Regions from separate parts of the Homo sapiens genome. Here region 2 is linked to region 1. The links come from fine-mapping of genetic effects on gene expression. Tissue or cell type: monocytes after R848. Region 1 holds a variant in brackets; the other region holds the start of a gene. All regions are shown on one strand. Distances are between the middles of the regions.

Region 1 (8,104 bases):
AGCAAGAGGCCCAGGGATAGAGTGCGGGGCTGCTGCAGTTGTCATGCAGTGTTCCTGGGTAGTTTTCATCCTCAGGGTTTCTTCGTGGGTGGAAAGTGGCAGCTGCCTATCCATGTCACCTGCAGGAAGATGCCAAAGGAAATTCATGGAGGAAGGGGTACTCCTGTGTCAGGGAAGGGAACTCTGTTTACAAAGTGCAAATCGACTCCCACTGTGATCGGAAGGTGGTTTTTAGCAGGATGCCCACCACGCGGAGCCATGCTGAGTTGTTGATTCTGCCTCCGCAGTCGCCCTGCATGCTTCCTAAGGTTCTCTTGCTCTGGGAAGCTGGGTTTGCCCGGTGGCGACCCACTCTCCTTCCTGGCTTCCAGACCTATATGGTCCCTGAATCTCACTCCACACGTGGCCCTGACACAACTTACCTCTGCCTTTCGTTCCTGAGACTAATTGCCCCATTTTTCCCCTCTCTCCTGCTTGTGATTCGGCCCCTTAACCAGATCCCAAGGTTGAGATTTGAGTGCTCCCTTAACCATCCAGGCACTGCCCGGCTATTGACTTGGGCTTCTTCACTCACCCACACACTTGATCCTGAGAGCTGGGCCTGAGTAGGTGTGGGGGCAAAGGAAAAACAAAGATAAACCTGACTCAGGCCTTGCTCTGCAGGTCCCCAGTCAAGGCTGGCTTTGCCCTCACCTATGCTTGAATTCTAGCAGAATCTGGTCGGAGTCATGTGCTTGGTCAGGAAGGGATGAGACAGCTTCTGCACTTTGTGCAAAGGGCTTAGAGGAGAATCCAGACATTCCTCTTCGCTGGGAGTAAACTAGCCACCTGGGGACAAAGAGCAAATCATAACAGGAGTCCGGGGAAACCCAAATATGCCTCAAAGGGGACTGGAATGACAGTTTCTTCTCCCTGGAGGCAGGCCTGAGATAAACTGAAGACTAGCAGTTTTTGCTTACTGAAAAAGAGGAACATGACTCAGTCCTTGGGAGGCACTCATGGCTCAGAAAGTGCCAACTCATCCCAACCAAGCATTCTCCTCTAAAATGGCCATTTCTCTCCTCTCTACCTGCCCTACTCTTAGCCATGCATCAAGGCTTGCTCAAATATGCCCTTCGATGGGAAGCTTATTCTTACACTGCAGGCGAATCAAACTCTTCCTTTTCTGTGCTTTCTTGGCACTTTTGAAAATAGTATCTTGATTGTAATTTATCTTTTATCATAATTGGGCTTGCTGATATGCCCTCCCACTGGGCTTCTTGAGGTCAAGAGCTATGTCTTTTTCATCTCAGTGTCCCTGGGCCCTGGCTTGAGCCTGACACAGAGGAGGTGCTCAGTGAAAGATGTAGCTTTTAACAAAATCTAATGTTACTGCCAGGGGTTGTCTGTTAGCTTTCCTTCATCTACAATCTCCAGGGTTGCATTCCGGCTGCTAGCTACCCTGACCCCCTCTCCACTTGCTCTGGACCTGCCATCACCACAGCCCAAAGCTCTGGGTTGCTAACAGCCTCTGTCCCCCACAGAGCCATTAGTAGGTGTCCTTTGGGGCAGAGGGCCCTGTGCCCAGCTCTGCAGGCCTAACGACACCATTCCTGAATGGCGACATGGATGTGTTTACCCAGCCTCTGTAACCTGACATGCAGCAGTCCTAATTGTCCTCTGCGTGAACCTGGTGCAGTATTTTAGTGTGTCCTATAGAATAATATTGAGAGAATGAACAAATCAGTGGCAGAACCTTCTGAGATTTGCCTAATTGCAACTCAAATTGTTCCCATATTGGAAATTACATGGCTAAGATGCCTTTTGGGGAACTGAATATTAGGAGCCCAGGAAGGTCAGCCAACAATGAGTTGCCAGACTTTTTCTCCATGAACTCTTACCGAGACATTTTCCTGCAATGAGACATGTATAGGTTGACTCAAAACAGATTTCACAATCACTTTATCCAATTTTGGACGGCTTAATTCGGCAGTTCACGTAACCCTCTTTAATCAGCCTCACGTTCAGGGGTTGTTGTTGTGGCTCAAGCACTTTGACGGGTAGATGGCACTCAGGTCAGTACCCCTAAATGGGGAGGCTCTGGCCAGTCACTGCCTTGGCTCTGGGAGCCTGGACTATATTTGGAACTCTTAGGGGCCCTGGGTCATTGTGAAGTCTCCAGCGAGGTAGGAAACCTGTGATTCTTGTTCCCAGGCGTGCTTTATGCCCTGAGTGGGATGCCCGGGGATGATGAAAGTGAAAGTTTTGTGTGTGTGTGTGTGTGTGTGTGTGTGTGTGTGTGTTAAGATTGTTCCAGTTTTGACACTGTTGTGAGGGGTATCGAGGTCTCTCAGGATTTTTGACTCTGACATTGAATAACAATAGGCTGGCTATCTGCCTAGTTCAGCACCCTCAGGGAAAAAGTAATTTCCTGTCTTTCCCTTTATGGCATTGGGGAAGCCATATGCCTGGACTTAGATTGGGAGGTAAGTCCAATTGCTGATATCTACCTTGTCACCTCTCAGGGGTTGAGGAAGTTGCAACCTCTACCAGGGAGACTTTTTTGTCTGGCACTTTAACTTTGCAAGCCCTTAGTTGTTGCTTGTTCCATGGGTAATCACAGCCATCCTGTGAGAGGGCCCCGGGAAAAACGATTCCTCTTTTACATATAGTGTAAACTGAGGTCTGGGCAGCTCAAGTGATTGGTCCAAGGTCATTCGGGGAGTTCATGGCAGAGTCAGGTCAGAACCAGCCTCCTACTCTCAGTGCGTGGGTCTCTTTTGTTTTGTTTCTTTATTAAGGAATCTGCCTCTCATTTGCTTGGATGAAACACTGTTGAGCAGTTTGGGCTGTGCTGGTTCTGAAGAGTGAAGCAGCATTGCAGGGGTGAGTGGCGTCATCTGCATATCACCCTCAAACCATCCCCGAGTGTGGCCAGCCCGCTCCTGGGTATCTTCCCAGTTACCTGAATGTGGCTGTCGACTCACTCTCCACCTAAACCCTTCAGGTTCTTGCTCTGTGGAGAGGTAGGGCAACCCTGGCTACAGACCAGGTATGTTCAGGGCCCAGGTGGGGAAGGAGAAGGCCACACTTGCCAGGTACTATTCTGGTTGCTTTGCATGAAGAGCTGCAGTCAACGCAGTCAGATTTTGTGAAAAAGAAAGCCACTGTTGCCTGGTTGGTGGGAGGGATGTGTGTGCGTGTGTAGGGTAGCATGTGTGTGGCATGTTATGTGTGTATGGTGTTTACAGTGTGTGTAGTATGTATATGTAACGTGTGTGGTATGTGACTGTGGTGTGTATATGTGTATAGTGTGTGTGTTGTGTGTATGGGGTATGTGTGTGGTATGTGTTTGTAGTGTGGGTTGTATGTGTGTGGTATGTGTTTGTAGTGTGTGTATGGGGTGTGTGTGTGGTATGTATTTGTAGTGTGGGATGTGTGTGTG[T/A]TGTGTATTTGTAGTGTGGGGTGTATGTGTGGTATGTGTTTGTAGTGTGGGGTGTGTGTGTGGTATGTGTTTGTACTGCCCCCATGACTCAAATTATCTCCCACTGGGTCCCTCCCACAACACGTTGGAATTATGGGAGTACAATTCAAGATGAGATTTGGGTGGGGACACAGAGCCGAACCATATCATTTTGCCCCTGGCCCCACATACCATATGTGTGTGTGGTATGTGTAGTGTGGGTTGTGTGTGTGTGGTATGTGTTTATAATGTGTGTATGGTGTGTGTGTGTGTGTGTGTGTGTTTGAAGGGTAGTGGTCAGGGAAGGCTTCCTGCAGTGGGGGTGGATTTTGAGTGAGCATTCTCAGCAGGCAGGGTAGTGATGGGGACAAGGGAAGGTGTGGGGGCAGTGGGGGCAGGGAAGGCAAATGGCTGGGGCTGTATCTGACTGATACTGAGGGGCCTGTTAGGAGTCCATGCCAGGGAGGTGAGCTGCTGTTGTCCTGACCAAGCCCTTTGCAGGCGCCTGACTTCCCCGTTGCAGCAGTAGAGCCAGGTCTTTTGGCAAGTGCTCTTCCTCCAAACACTGCCTTCCAAAGACAGTGATCTGACTCCAAACATCTGCAGAATGGAAAAAGAGAACAGAGGCAAATGGGATGGGCGGGGCAGTCATATCTTAAAACTCCAAAATGATCTCCTCTGACTCCATGTCTCACATCCAGGTCACGCTGATGCAAAAGGTGGTTTCCCATGGTCTTGGGCAGCTCGGCCGCTGTGGTACAGCCTCCCTCCCAGCTTCTTTTATGAGCTGGTGTTGAGTGTCTGTGGCTTTTTTGGGCACGTGGTGCAAGCTATAGGTGGATCTACCATTCTGGAGTCTGGAGGATGGTAGTCCTCTTCTCACAGCTCCACTAGGTGGTGCCTCAGTAAGGACTCTGTGTGGGGGCTCCAACCCCACATTTCCCTCCTGCACTGCCCTGGCAGAGGTTCTCCATGAGAGCCCTACCCCTGCAGCAAACTTCTTCCTGGACATCCAGGTATTTTCATACATCCTGTGAAATCTTGGCAGAGGTTCCCTAACACCAATTCTTTACTTCTGTGCACTGGCAGGCTCGACATCACTTGGAAGCTGCCAAGGCTTGGGGCTTGTACCCTCTGAAGTCATGGCCCGAGCTCTATGTTGGCCCCTTTCAGCCATGGCTGGAGCAGCTGTGACACAGGGAACCAAGTCCTTAAGCTGCACACAGCAAAGGGACCCTGGGCCCGGCCCAGGAAACTATTTTCTTCTAGGCCTCTGTGCCTGTGATGGGAGGGGCTGCCTTGAAGACCTCTGACATGCCCTGGAGACAGTTTCCCCATTGTTTTGGGGATTAATATTGGGCTCCTCGTTAAGCAAATTTCTGCAGCAGGCTTGAATCTCTCCTCAGAAAATGGATTTTTCTTTTCTATCGCATTGTCAGGATGCAAATTTTCCAAACTTTTATGCTCTGTTTCCCTTTTAAAATTGAATGCTCTTAACAGCACCCAAGTCATCTCTTGAATGCTTTACTGCTTAGAAATTTCTTCTGCCAGGTACCCTAAATTATCTCTCTCAAGTTCAAAGTTCCACAGATCTCTAGGGCAGGGGCAAAAATGCCATCAGTCTCTTTGCTAACAGTTCCCAAGAAGTTCCTCATCTCCATCTGAGACCCCCTCAGCCTGGACCTTATTGTTCATATCACTATCAGCATTTTTGTCAAAGCCATTCAACAAGTCTCTAGGAAGTTTAAAACTTTCCCACATTTTCACGTCTTCTTCTGAGCCCTCCAAACTTTTCCAGTCTCTGCCTGTTACTCAGTTCCAAAGTTGCTTCCACATTTTCAGATATCTTTTCAGCCACACCCCACTCTACTGGTACCAATTTACTGTATTAGTCTGTTTATGTCTTCTGATAAAGACATACTAGAGACTGGAAAGAAAAAGAGGTTTAATTGGACTTACAGTTCCACATGGCTGGGGAGGCCTCAGAATCATGGCGGGATGGGGGGCAAAAGGCACTTCTTACATGGCAGCAGCAAGAGAAAATGAGGAGGATGCAAAAGCAGAAAGCGCAGATAAACCCATCAGATCTCGTGAGACTTATTCACTACCACAAGAACAATATGGGGGAAACTGCCCCCATGATTCAAATTATCTCCCATTGGGTCCCTCCCACAACATGTGGGAATTATGGGAATACAATTCAAGATAAGATTTGGGTGGGGACGCAGCCAAACCATATCATTACTATACCCTGGGAGAGTTACTAGCAGGAAGAGACAGTCCACCACAAAGACACCTCCATTCTGGATGGGAAGACTGAATCTGCTAGTACAAAAAGTTTGCACAGTTTTGCAGCTAACTTCCATGACTCTCATTTCTCATGTGAGAATCCTCTACTTCTCGATCTTGACATATCCAATGACCTCTGAGGCTCACCCGGTTAATCTCAGAGCCTTGACCTTTTCCTGTGGCTCTTTAGAATGAGAGAAGAGCTGAGTGCAGTTTGCACTCTCCTTCACATCTTTATCAGTAAACATGCAGGAAGCATCACCGTGTCTAGGCACCACGGAGGCCACTGTGCCCCAGGCAGACACAGGTCTTCCCTCTATAAGCCTGAGGTGTGGCAAGGTCAGCAGCCTGGAGGAGTGAGAAGCAGGGTGTGAGGGTGTAGGGTGAGGCCAGAGAACTGAAGAGGACCCCTACCCTAATCCAGGAGGTCACGAAAGGCTAGCATATCACCAGGGAGCCCAGAAAAGGGGCAGAGTGTTTTGCAGCAGTGGGAACAGCAGAGCAAAAGTGCCTGGACAAGAACAGGCATGGTGGGTTCAAGAAACTGAGAGATTTAAACAGCTGGAGCTCTGGGGGCCAGGGAGAGAGTGGTCTATATGAAGTTGGAGAGGTAGGCAGAGAGTACTTTATCCTGTGGGAAGCCCTCTCCTCCATTCCAGTCCCCATCAGAAAGAAGAGCCCATGAAGGTAATGCCAGCTGGCAGTGAGCACCAAAGACAAGGACGAAAAGCTACTGCCTAAATGCACAGGTGATCTGTTGCCATGGGCATTGCCTTGGGCTCCCCAACTACTGGTCCTAAAGCCATGAAGCAGAATCTGTCTATAGGGCCAGCTGGCATCCTCCTTCCACAGCCTGTCATGGTAAGTACCAGATTTATCTCCGACCCTACCTCTAGGCATCTCAAGCACCCTAATGGGAAGAATTTTTTTTTTTAAATAAGGCCAAAAGCCAGCTTTTAATCTATGAATAGAATCCTTTCAATCTATGGGTACAATCAGCTTCTCCATACCGTTTTGCCCACCCACCCCCATTTTCTGTTTTCCCCTTAATTATATCTAAAGTTATGTAAGGGTTTCTCCCAAATACAATTTATGGAGAGTTGATTTTGGAAATGAATTCTGTTTGCTCAGATAAGGGTAACCTGGCAAAGAGACATTGAGAATAATCTTAAAATTGGACATTTTGTGACCTGTTTTTTGCCTAGAAAAACTAGCCTGATTCAGCTCCATTTAGCAGATGGGTAAAGAGAGTCATGTTGCCTTGAATCCTTTCTGTGCTCACGGAGGTGGCCCAGGGTGTGATGCCCTGTCCTTTGCTGGAACCTCCTCTAGACTGAAGCTCATCCCATATCTTGTGTTTGTGATCAGCACTTCCAATCCTCTTTGCCCTGAGTAGTATTTGATTGTAGAATAGGGAGGAGGGAAGCCCAGGTAAGGGCCCCTGTGAGCAAAGGTGTGCGGGCTGGAAGGGATTGGTGTGTCAGGAACAGTCAAGAGGCCAGTTTGCTGGTGCAGAGACACATGTAAGGCAATAGGGAGATAAGGAAGGTGGAGGCCAGATCCCAGAAGGCCTTGAATTGCAGGCTAAGATATTTGGACTTTATCTTCTGGGTAACAAGGAATAATGGAGGCCTTTAAGGAGAGGGTGACAAAAGTGAAAAGGTGTGGGCTGAGAGCAGTGGCGCTGTGCCTTCCTACCTGCAGGCGTTGCTGTGGGGTTGGGTGATTGTGAACTGGGCAAATACCTCAAAAGTTTGAACAGGCGTCCCATGCCCCAGGGTCCAACTATGTGCCAGCAACTCCTAAATTCTTCCATTTTCTGAATTTGAAACTCGCATGACAGTTGCCTTCTTAGCATCTCCACTTCGAAGTCTCACAGGCTCAAACTTAAGAGGCTCCAAAGGAAGAACTTGCTATTCTCTCTCAAACCTGCTCCACCTCAGTCTCAGTCTCAATAAATGGCATCTCTAATTGCCCAGCTACTCCGCTGGAAAACTGAGGCATCATCCTCCCTGCTTCCCCCTTGGTTGTCCTCATACTCATTCATCACCAATTCTGTTGATGCTATCTTCAAATATTTTCAAACTTATCCATTTCTTTACTATGGTCCCTACCTTAGCCTAGCTGCCATCATCTCTCTCTCGAACTTCTCTGCAACTTACTGATCTCCTTGATTCTATTTTAGAGCCCCATCCAACCTACCGTCCCCAAGCAGCCAGACTGATGGTTACATAAATAAATTGTCATGTAACTTCTCTGTGTAGAGTCCCTTTTTGGCTTCCCTTTGCACGAGGACAAAATGTGCAGCCCTTGCTATGGCCTCCAAGGCTTCATTCTGGTGGTCCAGACTCCTCTTTGACCCCCTCTCTTGCT
Region 2 (8,101 bases), 120 kb before region 1:
TAATTTTTGTATATGGTGTAAGAGACCAGCTTCATTCTTTTGTAGTGGATATCCAATTTTCCTAGCACCATTTGTTTAAAAAACTGTCTTTATGCCAATAACACACTTGTTTTGGGTAATGCAGCTTTGCAGTAAGTTTTGAAATCAGGAAGTGAGTCCTTAAACTTTGTTCTTTTTCCAAAATTGTTTTGGCTATTTGGGAGTCCTTGTAATTCCATATGAATTTGAGGATGGAGTTTTCTATTTCTGCAGAAACATCATTGGGATTTTGATAAGGATTCCATAGAATCTGAAGATTGATTTATATAATATTAACATCTAAACAATATTAAGTCTTCTAATCCATGTACATGAGATGTCTTTCCATTTATGTCTTCTTCAATTTCTTTTAGCAATGTTTTATAGTTTTAATTGTACACATCTTTTACTTTCTTGATTAATTCCTAAATATTTTTTTCTTTTTGATGTTACTGTAGATGGAATTGTTTTCTTTTCTTTCTTTTTTTTTTTTTTGAGACAGAGTCTTGCTCTGTTGCCCAGGCTGGAGTGCAGTGGTGCAAGGCACAATCTTGGCTCCCTGCAACCTCCACTTCCCAGGTTCAAGTGAGTCTCCTGCCTCACCCCCTGAGTAACTGGGATTACAGGTGCCTGCCACCACACCTGGCTAAATTTTGTATTTTTCGTAGATACAGGGTTTTGCCATGTTGGCCAGGCTGGTCTCGAACTCCTGACCTCAAGTGATCCATCCACCTTGGCCTCCAAAAATGTTGGGATTACAGGTGTGAGCCACTGTGCCTGGCTGGAATTGTTTTCTTAATTTCATTTTTGGATAGCTTCATTGTTAGTGAATAAAAATGCAACTGATTTTTGCATGTTGATTTCATATCCTCCTACCTTGCTGAATTCATTAGTTATAACCATTTTTTAAATGGAATCTTAAGAAGGACTGGTGTTGGTTCTTCCTTAAACATTTAGTAGAATTCATCAGTGAAGCCATCAGGTCCAGGGCTTTTCTTTGTCAAGAGGTTATTTTTAGATTACTGATTGAATCTCCTTACAAGTTACAGGTTGATATGGTTTGTGTGTGTCCTCACCCAAATCTCATCTTGAATTGTAGCTCCCATAATTCCCACATGTTGTGGGAGGGAGCCGGTGGGAGAAAAAACTGAATCATGGGGGCAGTTTCCCCCATACTGTTCTCATGGTAGTGACTAAGTCTCACAAAATCTTATGGTTTTATAAGGGATTTCCCCCTTCACTGTTCTCTCATTCTCTCTTGCCTGCTGCCATGTAAGACGTGCTGTTTGCCTTCTGCCATGATTATAAGGCCTCCCCATCCACGTGGAACTGTGAGTCCATTAAACCTCTTTTTTCTTAAAAACAAAAAAATTACCCAGTCTTGGGTACGTCTTTATTAGCAGTGTGAGAACAGACTAATACACACGTCTATTCATATTTTCTATTTCTTCATGATACAATCTTCGTAGGTTTTTTGTTTCTAGGCATTTGCTCATTTCATGTAGTTACTCCCATTTTTCAGCATACAATTGTTCATAGTACTCTCTTATAATCCTCTTTATTTCTGTAGAATTGATGGTAATGTTCCCATTTTCATTTCTGATTTTAGTAATCTGAGTCTTTTCCTTTTTCGTAGTCAATTTAGCTCAAGTTTTATTAACTTTTTTAATCTTTTTAAGAACCAACTTTTGGTTTTGTTGATTCCATTTTTGTTTTATCTGTGTTTTGATCTTTTATTATTTTCTTCCTCTGCTAGTTTTGTGTTTGCCATTTGTTCTTGATATTTAATGTTAATAAATGTTTTACTTTTTAATAAATCTGTTAATATTCCAACTGTTTTTTAATATAATTCCTTTCCTTTGTAATCCTATGTTTTAAAAACACTTGAAAACATTGAAACGACATAGGCTTCACCACACTTGTAAAGGTGCCATAGCACAAAAAAGGTTAAGAATCTTACTCCTATTTAGAAACCCCCTTCCCAAATCCCCAATTTCCATTACATATCCTGCTATTTTCCTCTTAGATCACTGGTTTTTAGACACATAAATATTCCTGTTATTCCTTGAACAGAACAAAGCAAAACTTCTAGTCAGGTGCGGTGGCTCATGCCTGTAGTCCTAGCACTTTGGGAGGCTGAGGTGGGCAGATGTCTTGAACCCAGGAGTTGGAGATCAGCCTGGACAACATGGGGAAACCCATCACCACAAAAAATACAAAAATTAGCTCACTGCCAACCACTTCCACCCAGAAGGGATTCTTGTGCCTCAGCCTCATGAGTAGCTGGGATTACAGGCACCCGCCACCACGCCCAGCTAATTTTTTGCATTTTTAGTAGAGACGGGGTTTTGCCATGTTGGCCAGGCTGTTATCAAACTCCTGTCCTCAGGTGATCTGCCCGCCTAGGCCTCCCAAAGTGCTGGGATTACAGGCATGAGCCACAGAGCCTGGCCATCTCCACTTTTTCTTATCCCCCAAAAGGATTAACATCCCTGGCTTTATGTAGAATAGTGTACGCTGCCACATCAGTGTTTGAGTCATTCCCCAGAGGAGAGGGGAATCCCCCCTCCATTTTTTTTTTTGCAACATCTTGTCTTCCCTTTGCTGTTGCTTCCCCCAACACACTTGGTTTTGTTCTATCCTGTACTTCAGATTTGTTTTTTGTTTTGTTTTTTTCATATTGAAAAGATGACATTGCTCCAAGAGGCAAAAATAAATGGGAACTGAAAAAAAAAAGCTTTTTATCTTATTTATTTAATCTTTTAATTCACCTGGAATGAATATTATGTCAATTGGGAGCTTAAATGCTTAAATGTATTTTTCCCCAAATGGTTAACTAATCCTCCCAATAGCACTCATTTGAATAATCTGTCCTTTCCCCATATATGTTACATGTCTTTTACAAAATACAGCCTATTTGAGGTATGTTTCTGGGCTTTTGTTCTATTGAGCTGTCCATTTGCTTACACCAGAAATGCCAGTTTATTTTTTTGTAGTCTTGCAATCTTTTAATTTCTACTAGTGCTTTTTAATTTAACCTTAATCCACTGTATTTGTATTTTTTTCAGTGGTGGTAAAAGGAAAAAATTAAAAATCTAATGAAAGCAGCCAAAAGCACACAATTTATGTCCTGTTAAGACTTCCGCATGTAAGTATCATGCTCCAAATATATTTTTCATCTTTACTTTTTATGACGGAAAGGGCTCAAGTACTTTGGGAAGCAAAACAGAATCGAGGGACGCCGAGAAGATACACAGCAGGCATGTAGGGTAGCGTGGTTGGCAACTGTTCTTACAAAATTTTAATTTGAATTATACGTAATGTACGTAATAAATTACTATTTGGATTTCCCTTTGGCATAAACAGCCAGGGAATATAACTAACATCAAAGATCCCAGACTCTCGACACAATATACTACTAATCGTAACACAATTCTAGAGGGTCAAAAAAGGTAGAGAAGTTTGGACCGTGGAACAGACCTGGTGGAATGTCGACACAAAGCGTTTCAGGGTAGACAAAGCCTACTCAGAACACCCTAAACGCGGAGTTTTGCTAAGTTGGGACGCTAAAAGGCAAGGGAATGACAGGACGTCCGCAGGCTAATTCGCCATTAAGAAACAGAACCGCGGCTTCTTCCACCTCCAGCGTCATCGGCCCCCAATTCGCTGTAACAAACGGATAGTGTCTCGCAGCATCAGACAACGGACTTGGAAATCAGTTTGCGACCACGCATCTGCGCCTTTTCTAGGAAAAGAGGAAGGCGGGTCCAACACTGGTAACGGCAGAAACATAGTTCACAAGGGCCACTGCAAACGCCCCGCCAGCAGCGGAACCGTTATCTCGCGAGACGACGGATCCCCATAAGGCACAAACCTAGCGCCAAGGTTGGCTGTCAAGGTAGATTCCAGGGTGTGGAAGTGGCTTTGTGGTGCCACCTCTAACCGCTCGGAGGTCAACCCCCATTCTACACCGAAAACTAGGCCTTGGCTGCTATGGAAGGACAGCGGCAAGAAAGCCACGCAACCCTAACACTCGCCCAGGCTCATTTCAACAATGGAGAGTACGCGGAGGCCGAGGCACTGTACTCCGCTTACATTCGCCGGTGCGCTTGCGCGGCCTCCAGCGACGAGAGTCCCGGGAGGTAACTATCGCGAGACCTGGGGCCGCGGCGACCCCGGGTGGAGGCGACGTTGGGGTTGTTTGGGCTCCTATCTTTGCCTCTGGAGCTCACGGTCGGCGCTTGTCATAACCCAGCACTAGGACTGAGCGGGCGGACGTTCGTCTTTCTAGAAAGGCCTAGGCGAGGCCTAGGACGAGGGCGGCGGAGAACGCGGGGAGAAGCCCACCCGTGAGGAGCCAGCTGCCGCGACGGTGCGGAGAGATTTCCGGGAACCAAGCCCTCTGCGCGATCCTCGGGCGCGGGCCGCCGCCTCTCACCCCGCCGTCTCTCCTTCCACGTTCCTCATTCGCACCCAGAGACTTAGGACAGATAGGAATTTTCCACTCGTGATTTTAGCTGGCGGGAAATCCGCGACCTGGGAAGGGAAGGGGTCACGGCTGCGTAGGGCCACAGTACCGCGACTCCCATCTCAGTGTCACGGCGCAGGCTCTTGGTGGTGTTTTTCACTTGTGAAAAACGTTTAAATATGTGGAAGAGAGCATAACGAACGTCTAGGTGTTTATCACTTGGCTTAAGCATTATCAGTTTACCTATTGTATTCATCCATGGATGTTTCAGAAGGAACCACCATGTCATCATCACATAGTTACTTAATATCAAGTCGTCAGTGTTGGAACCATTCTGATCGACTAATAAGGTGTTTTGTTCTTTGGTTCCCTTTTCGCAGTTAGTTCAAGTCAGGATACACATCAAGTCTTTTTAAGTCTCTTCTCCACCTTCCCCTCTTTATTTGTTGAGGAAACCGATTCTTGTGTCCTTTGAATTTCCGTGTTTTGGACTTGCTGACTGAATCTCTTCTGTCGTTTAATGTGGTCATCTGTCTCATATTGCTGTGAATTGGTGGTTAAACCTTGAGGTTTGATCCAATTGAATTCAGATTCAATATCATGGCAAGAATACTTTTTAGGTGGGTGTGTGTACTTTCACCAGGAAGCACATAACGATTCGCTGACTTTCTCTTTGTGATGTGAGCGGCTTCACCTGTTACTGTCTGCTTGCCCAAAGCATCTTTTCGGCTTGTGCCTGGATGTGTAGCATTTGTTTTTACTCCAAGTCTTGCCTCGACTGGGCTTGTTGATGGTATGGAGTGGATCAGGATGAGAAAAGAACAGAGGGGTTGGTTGAACAGCTTTTTGAATAGTTGTGAGTTGTCTGTTGTGGATTTGAGTTTTCTGGACAGGATGCCAGCTTGTCTTTTGTATGAGGCTTAACTAAACACTAAGGACTTGATTCTTACCCTGTTTGTTACGCTACATGGAATTAAACCAGAAAGAAAATTGCCTTCTCATTTCAATAACACACAAGAATAATAATAGAAGTTTCTGAACAGGCAATAAGATGATACCATCTACTTTCCTCAGTGCACCTCCCCCATAAAAAAGATAAGTAAACATAGAAAGCGAAACTATTCATGTTTCAAGCTCTAAGAGTAGACTTACCTAGTAGATTTTAAAAAGTATTTATCAGCATCAGGTATGCTGTTGCTGTCTAGTCTTGTTATTCTTCCTTCTTTGCACCTCTCAGCCTAAGAACACAAGTGTCTGTAGCATATATAATAGCTATGCCTTACCAGCACAGGAAAGACAGTTTGTCATAGCGCAGTAGAAGGGAGTTCATCATGCCTGAATTCCAGTCTTGGCACTGCCACATGGCTAATGTCTCAGCCTCAGTTTTTCATCTGTAAAATAAGCTTTTGATAAAATTCTAGGAACTCAAGGATTGAAACTGAATTCTGTCATTTCAACTTTTTCCCTTCAATTTATCTTTTGGAGCTTACATTTATTTTCTAAGTATTGGGTCACTAAATCATTTTGAAACAATATTTGCAATTTTTGAATGCCTTTCATTCTGAATGGTTTGTGACGTTTTCTTTTAATATCTAAAGTATAGCTTTAGTCATAAACCTAATTTCCAAAGTGTGTGTGTATATATATACACACACTTTATATATAAAAAATATATATACACACACTTTATATATATATAAAAAATATTTTTTTTTGCGAAAGTTAGCAAATCCTAAAAATTCACATTTGGGTTAGGTAACTTGAATGAATTCCATTATAATAAATACTATCATTACAAAAATTTTAATATTACAGAAAATTTCGGCTTCAACTGTTAGTCCATTTCTTTAAAATATGAAACAAAATTTCCACATGAAAACGATTTTAGAATTTGATTTAATGAGATCTAATTCTAAGTCTAACATTTTATGATTCTCTATATTACGAATATATAATTAGTATTAAAAACTTATAACAATAATTTTGAAACTTCGATTTAATGACTAAAACCTTACTGGCATCCTGAGATTGCTTTTTTCTTTAAACTCTCTACTGGGAGCAGTTCAACTAGTGTCATGTCACACATAGGTGAAGGGGAGTGGTACCGTCTTGTAATCTAGGTTTTAACGGGGGTGCTTAGTGGCATCCAGAAGTATCCCTACATCCAGTCTCCATCACAGCTCATAGAATAGACGTTTTCTAAAATTGCGACAGTTCCTCTCCATCGTTAGCAAACTTGGTTTGAAGGAGGCCCTTGGGCTGTGAGTGCCTCTTAGGGTAGCAGTAGTTACAGTCCCTGTCTGAAATCTCAAGGATCAAGATATTAAGAGAAGTAGCTTTTATTTACACTAACTGCCTTCACAGATACTTTCGGAGGACTATACTTTTTACTACGGGGTATTACAAAGAAGTGACAGATGAATTCTCTGTTTGGTTCTAATTTGAGAATTGCTTTGGGAAAAAAGAAAGGGAAACAGAATCATCCCTGACTCAGAGCAGAGGCACTAATGTTCTCTGTGCAGACTATTTGTCCTGTGCAGAGAAAGGTTCAAGGCAGCCAGGGGCTGTGACCTGTTGAGCTGGTGGCTGGTCAGAGCTACCTGGCTGTACAGCCCAGGAATGGCTGCTAATTTAAAGCTCTTTGGGCAACCTCTAGTTCCCTCAGGTGCAGAGCCAGTTCTGCACAAAGGACATCAAAATTGACTGGAGCCCTGAGGGGGTCTAAAGGAGCCCACCCTCCTAGCAGGAAGCCAGCCTGGCATTGGGGAGGATGCCAGCTGAGGCTGGAGGGAGGGCAACTCTGTCCCCAGAGATAACTTCCTGGGGATCGTAGCATGTTGAATTTTCACTTAGCGTTAACTTTAGTTTTTTATTGGTGGAAAATGATTTCAAATCTTATTGTTTTAAGATCACTTAAAAATTTGAGAATGAAATTGATTCACATTGTGACATATCCATAGCAAACTCGGGCTTTGGGCTGGCTTTCCCTCTTTGCTTAGTATTTATCTGTTCTGTCTTCTTTGCCCTGCTGGTGTGTGCTTAGAAAAATGAACAATCATTTTAATGTTATATTCAGCAGAACAAATTGGCAGTGAACACACTGTAAAGTTAGTATGCTTTTCAGGTTGACATTGCAGTGGTATAACCCTACAAAAGTAGATAACAGGGTTAAACAAAAATTGATTTTAGCTCTTTATTTGTACGTTTTTTCTTCAGCTTGGATTTTCAGTGTTGATGCTGCATGTTATAGGCTGTGAAGTTTGACAATACCCAAAAGAGAATGAAAGTGGAAATGAGAGGAATTTGGTAACACGGTGTTTTTAATGTGAACTTTTTGTTTAAAGCAAATGCAGCCCTGAGGATTTGGCTACTGCATATAACAACAGGGGGCAAATCAAGTACTTCAGGGTTGATTTTTATGAAGCCATGGATGACTACACATCTGCCATAGAAGTCCAACCCAATTTTGAAGTTCCATATTACAACAGAGGGTTGATACTGTATAGGCTGGGTAAGAATTTTTTTTCTTTTTGAGTTTTGTCATTGACTGTATTCTGTTATTTCAGAGCTTTCAAATGTTGTAAAACTAACGTGGTAATCAAATTTTAAAGTTCT

The links. PIP is the estimated chance that this variant, and not a neighbour inherited with it, causes the effect.
Region 2: it holds the start of TTC32, and the variant in region 1 is fine-mapped to the expression of TTC32 in monocytes after R848 (Quach 2016, PIP 0.91).

What each region holds. Positions count from the first base shown.
Region 1 is chr2:19,779,511-19,787,614 of GRCh38, reverse strand. No RefSeq gene overlaps it. Among named protein-coding and RNA genes, the nearest start is that of LINC00954, 85 kb to the left of the region's middle. RefSeq lists an enhancer at 270-1,469. The variant T/A (reference allele first, on the strand shown) is at 3,425.
Region 2 is chr2:19,897,765-19,905,865 of GRCh38, reverse strand. TTC32 (tetratricopeptide repeat domain 32) reads left to right here and starts at 3,883. Exons shown (of 3, transcript NM_001008237.3): 1 at 3,883-4,160; 2 at 7,831-7,997. The coding sequence starts at 4,012. RefSeq lists enhancers at 3,531-3,770, 3,160-4,040, 4,221-4,320, 4,401-4,460, 4,601-4,790 and 1 more.